Homo sapiens: one gene and its partner. The protein of the gene in region 2 purifies or fractionates together with the protein of the main gene of each other region. This does not show direct contact. Each region holds a gene or a part of one and is shown on either strand. Other genes may lie near its edges.

Region 1 (3,500 bases), on a different chromosome or scaffold from region 2:
TTATAGGTGTGAGCCACCACGCCCAGCTGATTTTTTACTTTCTTGATGATTCCTTTGAAGTATAAAAGTTTTTAATTTTGATGGTGTCCAGTTTATTTTTTCTTGTTGGCATTTATAAATGTGTTTTGAGAGTAACATCCATGGAAATCCCTGTGTATCATAAAAATATCATTTCATTCTTTATTTTACATTACTGCCTTATTGGTAAAATTATATACCTGCTTTATTTCCAGTCAAGAGAAGAGAGCAGAAAGCAGGCTCTTGCTGCTAAAAGAGAAAAAAGAAAAGAAAAGAGAAAAAAGAAAAAAGAGGAACAGAAAAGGAAACAGGAAGAAGATGAAGAAAACAAACCTAAGGAGAATTCGGAACTACCAGAGGATGAAGATGAAGAGGAGAATGATGAAGATGGTGAGAAACAAACCATCTGAATTAACGATAAAATTCTCCTTTGTTTATCAACTTCATTTTGAGTGCTCTTTGCTCTAGTTAACTCTAGTTAAACATTTGATTACTTTATTAATCTGAAATGGACAATGACTTTTATAGTAAATATTTGTAAGTGTTTTGCATTGTAAATTAATGCAGAGAAACAAGAGGGAAAACAAGCGCATAATTTGAATAAATTCAGTTGTAATTTAAGTCACCTTGTAAAACACTGCATATATACTAAAAGCAATACAGTGAGAAGTTTGCCACCTTTTTTTGAGATTCTTCTCTAACTCTTCCTCTCCTGATTAGAAGTAAAATTTCTCAGTTTACTTTTAGCTGAGATTCAGGCTCAAGGATATAGAGGCCTGAAATGTCAGTAGAGATGGGTTTAGTACTCTCAAAGAGTTATTTATTGTACTGTCTGGCAGTGCTTGTAGTAGGCAAATAATTTTGTTCTACTTGGATTCTAATTCTAAAATACTATTTGAAAAATGTCCTAAATTCAAATTATATTGTGGTTTGGGTTCATGAGACTAGAATTAAGAATATTAAGAATATTGGGCCGGGTGCAATGGCTCACACCTGTAATCCCAGCACTTTGGGAGGCCGAGAGCGGATCACGAGGTCAGGAGTTTGAGACCAGCCTGACCAATATGGTGAAACCCCGTCTCTACTTAAAAAAAAAAAAAAATTACAAAATTAGCCTGGGATTACAGGCGTGGTGGCACATGCCTATAATCCCACCTACTCAGGAGGCTGAGGCAGGAGAATTGCTTGAACCTGGGAGGCGGAGGTGGTGAGCCGAGTTCACGCCATTGCACTCCAGCCTGGGTGACAGGAGCAAAACTCTGTCTCAAAAAAAAAATAAAAAGAAAAAAAAGAATATTAAGAATGTTGCTAGTATGTGTGTCCTATACCACCTTAGACAAGAAAATATATTTTATATTTGTTCTAACAACAAATAATAGTAAATATTTATTAGGCTAACAAGAGCAAAGATTTTTTTTGTGTGTTTTTTTGAGATGAGGTCTCCCTCTGCCACCCAGGCTGGAGTGCAGTGGTGCAATCTCGGCTCACTGCAACCTCTGCCCCCCAGGTTCAGGTGATCCGCCCACCCCAGCCTCCCCAGTAGCAGGGACCACAGGTATGCACCACCATCCCCAGCTAATTTTTGTATTTTTTGTAGAGACAAGATTTCGCCATGTTGCCCAGGAGATCTTGAACTCTTGAGCTCAAGTAATCAATCCACCTGCCTTGGCCTCCCACAGTGCTGAAATTACAGGCATGAGCCACTGCACCTGGCCACAGTAAAAGATTTCTTTATTTCAGCTGGGCGCAGTGGCTCACACCTGTAATCCCGCACTTTGGGAGGCCGAGGCGGGTGGATCTTGAGGTCAGGAGTTTGAGATCAGCCTGGCCAACATGGTGAAACCCTGTCTCTACTAAAAGTACAAAAATTAGCCGGGCATGGTGGCACATGCCTGTAGTCCCAGCTACCCAGGAGGCAGAGGTTGCAGTGAGCCAATATCGCACCACTGCATTCCAGCCTAGGCGACAGAGCAAGACTCCATCTAAAAAAAAAAAAAAAAGATTTCTTTATTTCTTAGTGAATACTGGTGAAAGGAAAATATGATGTAAAACACTGAATTATTATGAATTATCAAATATATTCTGTCAGAATTTGTTTTGAGATCTGTGACTCAGTATGATTTTTATTCTTTTTAACAATTTCAGTGGAGCAAGAAGTTCCCATAGAACCTCCTAGTGCAACCACCACCACTACGATTGGAATCTCTGCAACATCTGCAACATTCACAAATGTGTTTGGGAAAAAAAGGGCCAATGTGGTGACAACTCCCAGCACCAATCGGAAAAATAAGAAGAACAAAACAAAAGAAACCCCTCCTACAGCACATTTAATTTTACCAGAACAACATATGTCTTTAGCCCAACAAAAGGCAGATAAAAATAAAATAAATGGAGAACCTAGAGGTGGTGGTGCAGGTGGGAATAGTGATTCAGATAACTTGGACAGCACAGACTGCAACAGTGAGAGTAGCAGTGGTGGTAAAAGCCAAGAGTTAAATTTTGTGATGGATGTGAATTCCTCTAAATACCCCTCACTGCTCCTTCATTCCCAAGAAGAAAAGACAAGTACTGCTACTTCCAAAACTCAGACACGGTAAATTTTTCTGATTTGTTAACTCTACCTGCACCTTTCCTTCTTCATGCCTGGTACAAGAATTTGAAGTATATTAATCCAAGTACAAGTTGTGTTAAACAATTGAAGTCTACCACATTATCTATCTTCAATATTCAAAACTGAAATTCACCCATGTCCTCTTTATCATTTGCTAGTTAGGAAATGAGATTATTAGAAATTTTTATAGGATTCATAGTCTGAAGTTGAAAATATTTGCATGCTTTGATTTTATCTATGTCATTTTTATTGATTATAGTCTAATTTTTGGCATCTGAATCCATTTTAATACTAAAATAAATGATGGGTTCTTTGCTCTATTTCTGTTTTTCTGACTCATTGATTATTTGATGTGCCAAAGTTTAATACGAATATTTCAGCGTAACTCTGGCTATAAAGGAATAGTCTCTTGAGTTTCTATCTTAAAACTTATCTTTTATTGTACTTGCTATTTGTCTCTTCTTAGACTTGAAGGTGAAGTGACTCCTAATTCCTTGTCAACCAGCTACAAGACAGTGTCATTGCCATTAAGCTCTCCAAACATAAAGCTGAATCTCACTAGCCCTAAAAGGGGTCAGAAAAGAGAAGAAGGGTGGAAAGAAGTTGTACGAAGGTAAATAGAATTAGTTCCATCTTTTTAGCTTTCATATATTTTCCCTTTCTCATGTGAGATGGCTACCTAGTTAATTAATGAATAATTTGAATGTGGTTATTATTTTAAACTGCATTGCCACACTAAATCCAGAATATGCTAAAGCAAAATTAGAAGCAGTATGTAAATTTTGCATGCATATTTTATATGACACAAGAAATTTTGGCTTTTTTGGATAACCTCAGTTGCTTTTTATGTAGTTCAAATGTAAAGGCTTTC
Region 2 (2,964 bases):
CCATTGCATTGTACATTTTAAATGGGTGAATTGTATGGTATGTGAATTATAGGCTCAATAAAGCTATTAACAAATTTAAAAAAGTATTCAGTAATTTATGTAAATAGAATCATATATGCTTCTTTTACTTAACAGTATGTTTGTGAGAATCTTCATGTTGTGTGTAGTAAAAGCTCATGCGTATTCCTTGCTGTGTAGTACTACCATTATGTAGTATACCACAATTCATCCATTTACCGATGGTGGGCATGTGTATTGTTCTCAGTTTTGGGCTATTGTGAATAATGCTACTGATAATGTGTATTGTTTGGTGCTTTTTTCCTTTTTGAATATTATGGATTGCTTCCTTCCATGTCAGTACATACAGATCTACTTCATTCTTTTTTGTCTTTCATAACAGACCATCATTTCACCATCGTCAATTTTAAGTTACTTCCAATTTTCACTATCACAAATTTTTATGCACTTTAAAAATATTTTGTAAGAGAGTGTGAGTGGGATTTATGTGTAAAAGTGTGTGTACATTTAAAATGTAGAAGATTAAAAATTCCTTTCCAAATACAATATTGTATCAAATTAGATACTGACATATGAAAATTTCACTCTTACTAACAAATAGTCCCTTTTTGCAAAAGCTCCACCATTTATGATTTTAAAAATGTTGCCACTCTCATGGGCAATGCTATTTGTTATTTTTCGATTTGAATTTTCCTAACTACCAGAACGTGAGGGGCTTTTATTTGTTTTATTGGCCATTTGTAGTCTGTGAATTGGCCTTTTCATGGCTGCATCTTTTTTTCTATCATATTGTCTTTTTATTGATATGTAGCAATACTTTGGCTGTTAGTCAAGAATTTTGGAATATTATGGTTAGTATATTTTTCCTGTTTCAGATGTTGCAAAAGTCCTTTCTAAGTTTGTGGCTTTTTTTTATTGAGGTAAAATATGCATAGCAGAATTTATCATTTTAACCTTTTTTTAAGTGTTCAGTTCAGTGACATTAAGTACACTGACACTGTTGTGAAACCATCACGACCATTCATCTCCAGAAATTTTTTCATCTTGTAAAACTGAAACTCTATCCATTAAACAATAACTCACCATTTCCCCCTCCCCCACCTCCTGGCACCCACTATTCTACTTTATGTTTCTATTAATGACTATTCTAAGGCTCTCATATGAGTGGAGTAATATGGCATTTGTACTTTTATCCTGGCCTGTTTTACTTAGAATAATATCCTCAAGGTTCATTTCTGTTGTAGCATGTGCCAGAATTTCCTTCCTTTTCAAGGCTGAATAGTATTCCTTTGTATGTATATACCACATTTTATTTATCCATTTATCTGTTCCTAGATGCTTGGTTGCTTCCCATTTTTGGCTATTGTGAATAATGCTGCTGCGAATATGGGTGTACAAATATCATTTAGATTTCTTGCTTTTAGTTTTGTTGGGTAGTTTTTGGCTTTTTCATATGTTTGTACAGAAATTTCTCATTTTTATGTATTCAGCTCCTTTTTATCTTTTCCATGTATCCTCTGTTTTATGTCATGCTTATGAAAACATTCGTTTCCCCAAGACTATCATGATAATCTCTATTTTCTTTTAAAACTTTTGCAGTTTCGTTTTTATATTTAGCTATTTAATCTATCTGGAATTTGTTTTTGCATTTCTTGAGAGGTAGAACTTTTATGTTACTCCCCAAATATGCATTTGTCTCAACACCATTGATTGTGAGGAAACTCCTTTTATGTATTTTTTCTTTGAGATATCACTTGACAACAAATATTTATAGATATACAGAAAAGCTAAGAGAAGAGGAAATAACAAATGTGATGACAAAGGCAAGAATCACTAATGAAAACAAAAAACTGTCTCAGTGAAAACCCATTAGAAATACTTGGCATGCTTTCTAGGAGTAAATGCCCACTGCAAACAATAAATGAGTTAATGAATAGAACCAAGTACTCTGGTATGTACACATTAGTTCTGTTTTCGTATGAAAAGCCTTAATCATGGTGTTGTAACTGAGATGACAGTCTTTTGCACTGAATTGCCTGGGGTAGATTTTTTTTGTTGCCATTTTGAACATTGCCAATCAAGTAAAAAGAATGAAGAAATTGTTTTGCCAATCTGGAATGAGAGCCTTAGATAGAATTTTTTTCTTCACTGAGAGAAATACTTGGTTGATATGCTATAATAATTATTTCTTTGGGTAAAAATTTTCTAGTTTTTGTTTTAAAAATAGAAATCAACTAAATTGTTAGTGTAAGGATGTGATGCAATACACAGGAAAAAACATGATTGGCTTTTAAGATTCCAGGAAACCAGTTGTGAAGTTTTCAGCTCAGGCACAGTTGACTACACAGTGTATAAAGAGGGAGGTTTGTAATAAAGACTAACCTCTTTTGGGTTGGAGGAAGATATGGTTCAAATTAGGAACCACCATCATAAGCACTTTTGGCTTAATTACAATTAGTTGTTATTTATTGAGCTTAATTCTTACAGTTTGATAAATCCTGGGAGTAATCAAGACTTGGAAACTGTATAAAGCCTGCAATTTATCAAAGCATTACAAAATGGATTCTTAATTTAGTCTCAGAAAGCTCCTGATGAGGTCTGATTGTTTATAAGAGCCTGGACCCTGGAGTCAGACAATCATGGATTCTAGTCTCAGTGCTTCCATTTCACTAGCTTTGTGACCATAAGCTAATGTCTCCAAACTTCAGTTTTTTTAACATGTGAAATGAGGACTTCTTACAGCCATTGTGACGATCAAATTATAAAATCTATCCCGAGTGCATAGCCTGATGCCTGGCACAAAATAAACACTCAGATGCTAATACTAGCCCATATATTTCCTTTGAATAAATAATTCAGCACAGACTAGATGATGTTTTAAAATATATAAGAGTTAAATGAATTTTGAAAGCTATCAGACTTACAGGGTGTAACCAACTTATCACA

What was found. The genes of interacting proteins can lie anywhere in the genome.
Region 1: the proteins of DBX2 (region 2) and ANKHD1 purify together in Homo sapiens (affinity purification with mass spectrometry, with the first as the bait; one large-scale study listed by BioGRID). This does not show direct contact.

The regions. Positions count from the first base shown.
Region 1 is NC_000005.10:140,523,833-140,527,332, forward strand, and holds part of ANKHD1 (ankyrin repeat and KH domain-containing protein 1), read left to right. Parts: intron 1-233; coding exon 234-408; intron 409-2,163; coding exon 2,164-2,611; intron 2,612-3,095; coding exon 3,096-3,242; intron 3,243-3,500. Other genes in the region: ANKHD1-EIF4EBP3 protein, read left to right, coding at 234-408, 2,164-2,611, 3,096-3,242. UniProt on the Homo sapiens protein: May play a role as a scaffolding protein that may be associated with the abnormal phenotype of leukemia cells. Isoform 2 may possess an antiapoptotic effect and protect cells during normal cell survival through its regulation of caspases.
Region 2 is NC_000012.12:45,017,136-45,020,099, reverse strand, and holds part of DBX2 (homeobox protein DBX2), read left to right. Parts: intron 1-2,964.